Linked DNA regions of Homo sapiens: region 2 is linked to region 1. A link means that fine-mapping ties the variant in region 1 to the expression of a gene that starts in the linked region. Tissue or cell type: whole blood. Region 1 holds a variant in brackets; the other region holds the start of a gene. All regions are shown on one strand. Distances are from middle to middle.

Region 1 (5,365 bases):
TTGGGAGCTGGGCCCTTCTGATCTGGGTGCCAGAGCAGACAGGCAGGGCCTGCCAGAGGAAGCATCCATCCCCAAGGACGAAGAGCATAGTAAGCAAACATGTGAACAGCGGGGTGAGTTCAGATGAGCAAGGACGGGGTTCCTGAGGTAGGGAGGGTCTCTTCTAGACGGGCCTCATCTGTTCCCCTCCATCACCCTCAGAGATGCACCTCATGACCCCATCTTACAGCCAAAGAGCTGGGCTCATCAACAAGCCGCCCACGGCCACGGGGCAAGGCAGGAGCCACAGGCTGACCCCAAAGTCCCAGCCTCTCCCACAGTCCCCACCATTAGAGAGAAGCAGAGAGGACACAGCAGGACAGGAAGACATCGCCCTGGCCCGGGCTCCCCACGGCCTCCCCGGTGGTCTCCAAGGTCACCTCCTACAGTCCAGGCTCCATCCAGCAAAGCTCTCTTCAGGAAAATTGACCTCGTCGGCCCCTGCTCAAACCTTCCGATGGCCCCACACCAGCAGCAGCTAACGGGGAAGGATGATGAGGGTGGCGAGGGCAGCTGGGATCTGAGGCGGGAAGAGCACAGGGGTGTGATCTAGGGGGACCAGTGACCAGAGACTTTTGCTCCCAGCTTCTTACCCTGGAGTGACATCTGGGCCAAGGGAGAAAGGGAGGGCCCAGGCGTCGGTGGCAGCTCGGGAGGTGAGATGGGACCCAGCCTCTGCCTCTCCTACCCTCTGGGGGCCTTGGGAGAGAAGAGCTCCTTGGAAGAGCCTCTTCCATTTCTCCTTGGTGACCGTGGAGCCAGCAAAGCAGTGTCTGAGGCTGCTTGGTTTTAGATTGGTCCCAAGAGACCCAGACGGGCTCCAATCTCCCTGGACTTGCTGTGCAACCACGAGCCAGCCTCTCACCCTCTCTGTGAAAGCTTGGTTACCTGCTGGCTTTGGGTTACCTGCTGTTCTTTCTGCTGAACCCAGTGGCCCCATGCACGACTCCCTAGGAGTTAGGATGAGGGTCCCAGGGAACAGAAAGCCCAGGGGGGCCAGCAGCCCCCACCCAGGCTGTTGCCTAGGCTGGTCTTGAACTCCGGGGTTCAAGTAATCCTCCTGCCTCAGCTTTCCGAGTAGCTGGGATGACAGTGTCATTTATTTTAAAATACAAATTTAAATTGTCAGCATGAATTTTACTATCCATCTTTATATTGTGCAATGCCAGTTTTTGCACACAAATAGAAGAGCATTGAATTCATAATGCAGAATCAGCAGAATTACACAATTGGTATTTCATAGTTCCTACATGCGTCTGTGGTGTGTGTTGTTCTTACCACAGCAGTGGAAACACTGCACAAAACTAACTCACCTGTTTTTATTTCACTTTTGTTTTTGTTTTTGTTTTTGAGACGGAGTCTCACTCTATCGCCTAGGCTGGAGTGCAGTGACACAATCTCGGCTCACCGTAACCTCCACCTCCCGAGTTCAAGCGATTCTCCTGCCTGAGCCTCCCGAGTAGCTGGGGCCACAGGTGCCCACCACCACACCTGGCTAGTTTTTGTATTTTTAGTGGAGACAGGGTATGGCCATGTTGGCCAGGCTGGTCTCCAACTCCTGACCTCAGATGATCTGCCCACCTTGGCCTCCCAAAGTGCTGGGATTACAGGCATGAGCCACCGCACCCCACCTTTATTTCACTTCTTGATTCTCCCAACACTCCGGGGAAGCCAGTGGCTTCCTTAACTCACTTACTTTGTATTCACATTGAATCTTGCTAGACTCCCACCCAACATGGATCCGCCAGACCACTGTGCCATGGACATGGAGAACGTTGTATGCGAGTCCAGTGGATGTCAGCTGTGGATAGGGTGCATGCTCCACTGTCCAGCTGGACTTCACTATAAGACACAAGTTCAAAGAAAAAATGATTACGCCTTCCAATGTGGGGACAGCAGAGCGTTAAACCAAGCACAGAGGCTTCTGAGCCCAGAGTCCTGTGCTACTGCCCAGCTGACACTCCTGTGTAGCGTCCCTGTCTCTGGACAACTGCCAGTGGGGAAAGAAAGCCTCAATCCAACAGCCAGACGGACATTGAATCCTGTCACCGAGGGAGTGAGCTTCAAAGTGGATTGTCCCCCAGTCAAGTCTCGAGATGACTGTAGCTTCTCGTTGACACCCTATGAGAGACCCTGAGCCAAAGGAACCAGCTAAGCCACGCCCAGATTCCTGGACCCACAGGAACTGAGTGATAATAAACGTGTGCTGTTTCAAGCAGCTAAGTTTTGGGATAAATTGTTTTGCAGCCAGAAATACCTAATACAGCTGGCATTCTTCTGTAAAGCAAAGCATTCCTTCCTCAAACCGGACAACTATTTGGCTGCTTTGAAATACAGTTTCTACTGGAAAGGCAGGATAGATGCTTGATTTTTTTGCCTCTCTGGGCCTGATACACACACACACACACACACACACACACACACACACACACATATATATATATACACACACACATATATACACATATATATATATACACATATATATATACACACATATATATACACACATATATATACACATATATATATATATATTTTTAAAGAGGTAGGATCTTGCTCTCTGGCTTGGGCTAGAATGCAGTGGCACAATCATGGCTCGCTGCAGCCTCAAACTCCTGGGCTCAAGCGATCCTCCTGCCTCAGCCTCCTGAGTAGCTTAGGACAACGGGTGCATGCCGCCACCTTCGGCTAATTTATTTTTCTTTCTTTCTTTCTTTCTTTTTTAGAAACTGAGTCTTGCTATGTTGCCCAGGCTGGTCTCAAACTCCTGAGCACAAGTGATCCTCCCACCTCAGCCTCCCTAAGTGCTGAGATTACCTGCCACTGGGCCTGGCCAAGAGTTTGGTTGAATAAATGCTTTGGTGGGGTCCCAAGAGTTTCTCTGGATTTCCCCAGTTTGAGTGTCTAATGAACAAATGACTTTTTTTTTTTTTTTTTTTTTAGACGGAGTCTCCCTCTGTCACCCAGGCTGGAGTGCAGTGGCGCAATCTTGGCTCACTGCAAGCTCCGCCTCCTGGGTTCACGCCATTCTCCTGCCTCAGGCTCCTGAGTAGCTGGGACTACAGGCACCCGCCACCACGCCCAGCTAATTTTTTTGTATTTTTAGTAGAGGCGGGGTTTCACCATGTTAGCCAGGAGGGTCTTGATCTCCTGACCTCGTGATCCACCCGCCTCGGAATCCCAAAGTGCTGGGATTACAGGCGTGAGTCACAGCACCCGGCCAATCGTTTTTCTTTCTGATGTTCAAATTGTTACAACTTGGCCAGTAGGAGTCCCTTCCAGCTGGCTCCTGTGTCCTTTTGACATGGCCCCATTAATCTTTTAAAGCTTCCTTGCTTTCTGCTGCGAACAACATGTGCCAGGCTCCTCATGCTCTTGCCCGGCCCTGGCCCTGGCC[C/T]TGGCCCTGGAGCCAGCCACTTCCCCAGGGTTCCTTGAGTGGCACCTGCCATTCAGACATGGAGATCTGGTTGCTAGGGATCATCACAGATTTGATTTACATCTCCCAAATTACTAGTGAGGTTGGATATCTTCTATATTCATTGACCATTTTTACTTATTCTTCTGTGAATTGTTCTTATCCTTTCTACCAAATTTCTATTAGATTTTTTTGTAATTTTTTTTTTTTTTGAGACGGAGTTTCGCTCTTATTGCCCAGGCTAAATGCAATGGCATGATCTCGGCTCACTGCAACCTCTGCCTCCTGGGTTCAAGCAATTCTCCTGCCTCAGCCTCCTGAGTAGCTGGGATTACAGGCACCCACCACCACACTCGGCTATTTTTTTTTTGTATTTTTAGTAGAACAGGATTTCACCATGTTGGCTAGGCTGGTCTTGAACTCCTGACCTCAGGTGATCCACCTGTCTCGGCCTCCCAAAGTGCTGGGATTATAGGCGTGAGCCACCACACCCGGCCTTATTTTGTAATTTTTTTAATTTTATTTTATTTTTTGAGACACGGTCTTGCTTAGTAGCCCAGGCTGGAATGCAGTGGCTCGATCTCAGCTCAATGCCACCTCCCCCTTCCTAATCCTCCCTCTCCCAATCCTCCCTCTCCCTGGTCCCTTTATTCTGGACTCAGGGCTGATGGCTCCAGGGCTCTGTCCTTGCCCCTCTTTTCTTCCCACACTCTTTTCTCAGTGAGCTCATCCAATCCCAAATTTAAATCCCAGCCCTGACATCTCTATCCTGATTCAGGCTGGAGCCTCCAGCTGCTTCCTGGACCCCTCACGCTTCGTGTGGACGAAGCGGAACCCCTGCCAAAGCCTCCTCTTCCCTGGCTATTTCCCCTCGAAAGTGGAGGCTCTGTTTGCCAATTTAAATAGGCAAGAAGCCCTGGAGTCCTCCTCAACTGTCCTCTCTTTCACCCCTCACATCCCATCCATCAGTAAATCACGTTAAACAGGGCGCGATGGCTCGAGCTTGTATTCCCAGCTACTAGAGAGGTGGAGGCAGGAGGATTGTTTAAGCCCAGGAGTTTGAGGCCAGCCTGGGCAACATAGTGAGACCCCATCACTATTACTTTTTTTAAAAGAGACTAGGGCTGGGCACGGTGGCTCACGCCTGTAATCCCAGCACTTTAGGAGGCTGAGGAAGGCGGATCACGAGGTCAGGAGATAGAGACCATCCTGGCTAACACAATGAAATCCCGTCTCTACTAAAAATACAAAAAATTAGCCGGGCGTGGTGGTGGGTACCTGTAGCCCCAGATACTCAGGAAGCTGAGGCAGGAGAATGGTGTGAACTGGGGAGGCAGAGCTTGCAGTGAACCGAGATCGTGCCATTGCACTCCAGCCTGGGCGACAGAGCAAGACTCTGTCTCAAAAAAAAAAAAAAAAAAAAAAAGACTAAATGAGGTCCTGTTTCTCCTCTCAAATCTCTCCATGAGAGAAGAAGGAGGTTGTGTACATGAGCGTGGACACCACAGAGGAGGGAGCTTGTCCAGAAGGGGCGTCAAGGAAAGTTCTGGAAAAGAGGTGCAGAGCAGCTCAAGGCTCCGTGAGGAAGGGAGACCATGTCAGCGGTGGAGACCCTGGAGGCAAGTGAGCAGAGACTGGGAGCTACAGAAAGCCAAATCTGTGATGGAGAACATACCAGGTAAGACCAGGGAAGTATGTTGGCACCAGGTTGTGGGGCTCTCGATGGCTGAGGAGCTCAGACTGTCTTTGGGAGGTGACCTAGAGCCACTGGAGATCCTGGAACAGGAGCAGTGGTGGCCACAGAGCTGGCAGCCTGTGCAGGGTGGACTAGGGAAGGCATGGAGGCCACCCCGGGCTTACGCCTGAAGCAACCAGGGCAGCGGAAGAAACGGAAGGAGATGTGTGGAT
Region 2 (5,401 bases), 47 kb before region 1:
CTCCCAAGTAGCTAGGATTACAGGTGCCCGCCACCACACCCAGCTAATTTTTGTATTTTTAGTAGAGACAAGGTTTCACCATGTTGGCCAGGCTGGTCTCGAACTCGAACTCCTGACCTCAGGTGATCCATCTGCTTCGGCCTCCCAAAGTGCTGGGATTACAGGCATGAGATAAATATCCAGGCCCAGCCAGGGTATTTATTAATAGTAGCATTCACCAGATGCCAGGAACACCATCGCTCCCCAGTTCAGAACTGCCAGTCTAACTCAGTAACTGCTTGTATAACTTTGGGCAAAAGAACTCTTTACGCCTCACTTTTACTTACTCAGCAGCAGAGTGGGGAAAAAAATTTACCTCATATGGGGTTGATATTAGAAATACTATTTATGGCCAGGCAAGGTGGCTCACGCCTGTAATCCCAGCACAGATCACCTTAAGTCGGGAGTTCAAGACCAGCCTGACCAACATGGAGAAACCCCGTCTCTACTAAAAACACAAAATTAGCTAGGCGTGGTGGTGCATGCCTGTAATCCCAGCTACTTGGGAGGCTGAGGCAGGAGACTAGCTTGAACCCAGGAGGCAGAGGTTGCGCTGAGCCAAGATCGCACCATCGCACTCCAGCCTGGGCAACAAGAGCAAAACTCTGTCTCAAAACAAACAAACAAAAAATGCTCTTTATGAGAGTGCTTGGCAAGGACCCTATCAAAAGGAATTCCATACTACTTCCATTATCTGGGCAATCGTAACCCTGGAAGACCAACACATCCCCAAAACTAACAAACCAATACTTAAAGAGGACCATAAGCATATTCAAGTCTATGAAAGTACTAAAAATCTCACCATTTACAGAAATTTCATCATGAAGATCCTTACACTTAACACCTTAAGGTGATGAGTTTTCACATGACTGTTTTCAAGGCCACAGCCACCACCTTTAATCTAAAAGAGAAGGATAACAGGCTTCATTCTAACAGAAACCACCTTAAGGTTTATTCTCCAGATTTGTATTAAACAGCTGAGCCTCAGCAAGTCAGACCTCCTCACAAAAGATACCATTTCAGACAGGGATAACTTTAAATCATCCTCAGCTCAGCCAATAACAAAGATTCCTAAATCCTAGCGATCCAAAATTCATTTGCCATGTCTCTTTCATCCCTGCATGCCCTAACGAGGATCCACGCTGGTTACAATGACACCTAGTGGCCCCAAATCACACGGGCAAAGACGCTACTCATTTTTATCATTAAAATAATTAGCATTCTGAATTTTGAGTAATTTCTTACCATAGCTGGCTTGTATGTCAACACGTATTCTCATACTTGAACTTCAGAATAAAGCAGGAGGTGAATGTATGTGATGGCACCAACTGTGCTTTCTCATTTCTAGTGACCACTCAGGCCCTGCCTGCACCCACTCTTACTCATGTTAAGGGCTCCATCTATTACTCTGATCCTTCAACCTGGAGCTCTGCTTTTCACCGTCTCTGCAGATGCCAAACAAAGAAAGGCCTCTGGGGGAGGAAAAAAGGCTCGTTGTTAAAACTACGGCTTTCCAGAAGTTTACAATCCTATTGACTCCTATCTGTAAAGCTAAATATGAACTACCGATTGGGGCCGTCCTCAAGACACTCCAAGCGGAATCACGTCTTCACACGTTAACACTCCTGATGCTGAATTAAGAACCACCATCGTCAGAGTCTGCCCGTGCGCGGGCACCGAAGACCCCTGGGCATGACGCTCAGCACACGCGCGGCGGAGGCGCACGGGGCTGCCCAGGTTGTTAGGCGCTCTCCCCCGCAGAAGCCGGCCCTATGACGCCGAGGACGGGCTTGAGCTCTCTCCCTTCACATAGTAACATTTTCTCAACGTTTGGAAAGCATTTTCTCATCCAGTACTTTTAACCCTCCTAACCACCCTATGAGGGAGAAACCGAGATTATCGTCACCACTTCGTCTCTGAGGAAGGGAAGCCAAGTATGTTAGTGTCGTGTCAAGGAAGACCCCGTTTTCCCACCCAGGCAGCCTTACCATCATCACTAAAGGCCTGAGACTGCTCGCCGTGCTCAACACCGACTGGAGTGGCCATGTCTTCCAGCCACGCGGCCGACCTCGAAAAGAACGCGAGACCGCCCCTGCGCGCAAGTCTTCTCGGCAATCTCTCCGGAACTCTCGCGATGTTGAGAAAGGGCTGGTGGGAAATGTAGTTCAAAACTACGGCGGCTGGGGGCTGGCCGCGTCCTCAGCGCGACCCTGGAGCTGGGGGTAAGATGGTGGCCGCCACCAGGGGCAGTGGAGGGTCCGGAGTGGGAAACCAGGCCTGTGAAGAACCACGGCTGTCAGAAAACGAAGCTGGAGGTTCACTTCTGCCAGAAAGTCATTGAGCTTCAACACAGTTTGTCCCTGGTCGAGACTGGGGAAGCACAGAAAGTTCGAGGGGGCAGGGACAGATGAGGAAACCGGGGCTTGGCCGAGTATCTTTGTTAATTGCTCTGCGGATTTTATTTGGGGGAGGATAGGGGCATTTGGGGTGGTTCGCTGGGTTAGTGAAGAGGAGAGATTCCGAGGGAATCGTTCAACCTCCTGCTCAGGTGTTTTTAAGTTTGGGGCGAGGCCGGTGAAGCCGAGGCGCGGGCGGCAAGGAGCGCTGGAGAGCGACGGGGCTCGGCCTCCGCGGCTGCCCAGGGGCCCGGGGCATTCCGAGAAGAGAAAAAAAGGCAAGTGTCACGAGCTGAATTACGAAAAGAACGGAGAATGATGTAACACCCACTGCTCTTCTGAGTGTTATTTTTCAGGCAAACACCTTGGCTTCATTTTTTTTTGTTTCTGGGTTTTTTTGGTTTGTTTTTGAGATAAGGTTTCACCCTGGCACGCAGGCTGGAGTGCAGTGGTGCAATCATAACTTATTGTAGCCTGGACCTCCCGGGCTCAAGTGATCCTCCCGCCTCAGCCTCCTGAGTGGCCGGGACGACAGGCGAGCGCCACCACGCCCAGCTGATTATTTTTATTTTGCAGAGATGAGGTCTCACTATGTTGCCCGGGTTGGTCTCAAACTCCTGGCCTCAAGCAGTCCTCCTGTTTTGGCCTCCCAAAGTGCTGGGATTACAAAGGTGAGCCACTGCGCCCGGTCTGGCTTCGTTTTTGAAATAAAAATAAGGCAAAAACGACATCAACAATCAGGGCCAGAATTTGCACCTATTTGAAAGCTAGTTTAAGTTTGCAAGACCGAGAGCCTTTTCTCCATTCCAGTCTCCCTGTTCTCATCCACCCATTAACAGTGATCTCTGTGGCCTTCGGTGTGGGTTATATTGTCCTGCAGATGGTAATATGTTGCAGATACTTATCTTCAAATTACCACATTTGCTTATGTTTACCTCCTTTCATTTGATTGTAAGCTCTTCAAGAGCAGAAGTCTCTTTTTATTATTATTATTATTTTTTTTTTTTTTTTTTTTTGAGATGGACTTTTGCTCTTGTTGCCCAGGCTGGAATGCAATGGCACGATCTCGGCTCACGGCAACCTCCGCCTCCCAAGCTCAAGTGATTCTCCTGCCTCAGCCTCCTGAGTAGCTGGGATTACAGGCATGCGCCACCACGCCCAGCTAATTTTGTATTTTTAGTAGAGATGGGGTTTCTCCATGTTAGGCTGTTCTCAAACTCCTGACCTCAGGTGATCCACCCGTCTCAGCCTCCCAAAGTGCTGGGATTACAGGCGTGAGCCACCACGCCCAGCCTCTTTTTATTTTTATTTTTTTCTTTTTAATTTCTTAACAGTGCAGGGTTTGGTATTTACCTGCTATGCTCACAGTAAGTCTTCAGCAAATAATCATTAATTCATTCAGCAGTAATTCTGGCCATTAGGTTTCTCTACCTTACCCTTGAAGACACGTTATTTTGTGTAATACTGAAAGGAAGAATGTGTTCTATCCCTGCAAACATAGTTCCTTTCATTTGAGACTTACAGTGGGAATTCTAAGTGTGGAATTTCCCAAAAGCTGCTAGCGGGCTGGTGACCTACTGTAGACAAGATAGTAATGATAGCTAATACTTCATAGCACTTACCAGGTGCCATTCCCTATACTGGTTTCTGTACATGTATGAACTCGTTTAATCCTCACAATGCGATGAAGTACTACTGTCAGAGGCATTGGAACCAGAAAACTCCATCTTGAATAGGAGCTGGGTGAAACGAGGCTGAAACCTACTGGGCTGCATTCCCGGACGGTTAAGGCATTCTAAGTCACAGGATGAGACAGGAGGTCGGCACAAGATACAGGCCATAAAGACCTTGCTGATAAAACAGTTTGCAGTAAATAAGCCCACCAAAACCAAAACCAAGATGGCGATGAGAGTGACCTCTGGTCGTCCTCACTGCTACACTCCCACCAGCGCCATGACAGTTTACAAATGCCATGGCAACATCAGGAAGTTACCCTATGTGGTCTAAAAATGGGAGGCGTAAATAATCCACCCCTTGTTTAGGATATAATCAAGAAATAACCATAAAAATGGGCAACCAGCAGCCCTCAGGGCTGCTCTGTGGAGTAGCCTTTTTTTTTTTTTTTTTTTTGAGACAGAGTCTCGCTCTGTCACCCAGGCTGCAGTGGTGCTGCTGTCTCGGCTCACTGCAGCCTCCACCTCCTGGGTTCAAGCAATTCTCCTGCTTCAGCCTCCCGAGTAGCTGGATTACAGGCGCACGCCACCACGCCCGGCTAATTTTTGTATTTTTAGTAGCAACAGGGTTTCACCATGTTGGCCAGGCTGGTCTCGAACTCCTGACCTCAAGTGATCTGCCTGCCTCAGCCTCCCAAAGTGCTAGGATTATAGGCTTGAGCCACCATGCCTGGCCAAGTAGCCATTCTTTTATTCCTTTACTTTTCTAATAAACTTGCTTTCACTTTAGTCTATAGACATCCCAAATTCCTTCTTGCTCAAGATCCAAGAACCCTCTTTTGGGGTCTGGATCAGGACTCCTCTCCGGTAACACTATCACTGTCCCCATTTTACGGATAAGGAAACAGAAGCACTGGGAAATTCGGTAACTTGCCCAAATTCACATAACCAGTAACTGGCAGGGTCAGGGTTTGCTCCCAGCCTGTAGAATCCATGCTTTTACCGCTAATGAATAAGGTGACCTTATGTATAAGGACTTTTGTTTTCGGGGAGGAAGGGAGAAGGAAGAAGATTTTCATGTGTTTGTAGGGGTGGTTGGGGACAAAATCAGAAATGAGGTTGAAAGGGGGAACAATGGGCACCTGCTCTGCCATTTGAGCCACTTCGTGGCAGGAAGAGTGAGGATGGGAGGCTGCAGAGCTGATGTGTGGAAGATGGAGGCTCTGGGCTCTAGCAGGGCTGTATTGGGCCTGGATGCCACCCAGTGTATAGTGAGGGCCATTCTTTACAGCT

The links. PIP is the estimated chance that this variant, and not a neighbour inherited with it, causes the effect.
Region 2: it holds the start of SNHG16, and the variant in region 1 is fine-mapped to the expression of SNHG16 in whole blood (TOPMed, PIP 0.93).

The regions. Positions count from the first base shown.
Region 1 is chr17:76,507,817-76,513,181 of GRCh38, reverse strand. No RefSeq gene overlaps it. Among named protein-coding and RNA genes, the nearest start is that of RHBDF2, 9.1 kb to the right of the region's middle. RefSeq lists an enhancer at 1-353 and a silencer at 2,736-2,946. The variant C/T (reference allele first, on the strand shown) is at 3,440.
Region 2 is chr17:76,554,484-76,559,884 of GRCh38, reverse strand. SNHG16 (small nucleolar RNA host gene 16) reads right to left here and starts at 2,121. Exons shown (of 3, transcript NR_038111.1): 1 at 2,028-2,121. It overlaps SNORD1C (small nucleolar RNA, C/D box 1C), which reads right to left and starts at 1,095; the gene lies at 1,016-1,095. RefSeq lists enhancers at 899-1,700, 2,041-2,300, 1,701-2,501, 2,991-3,090.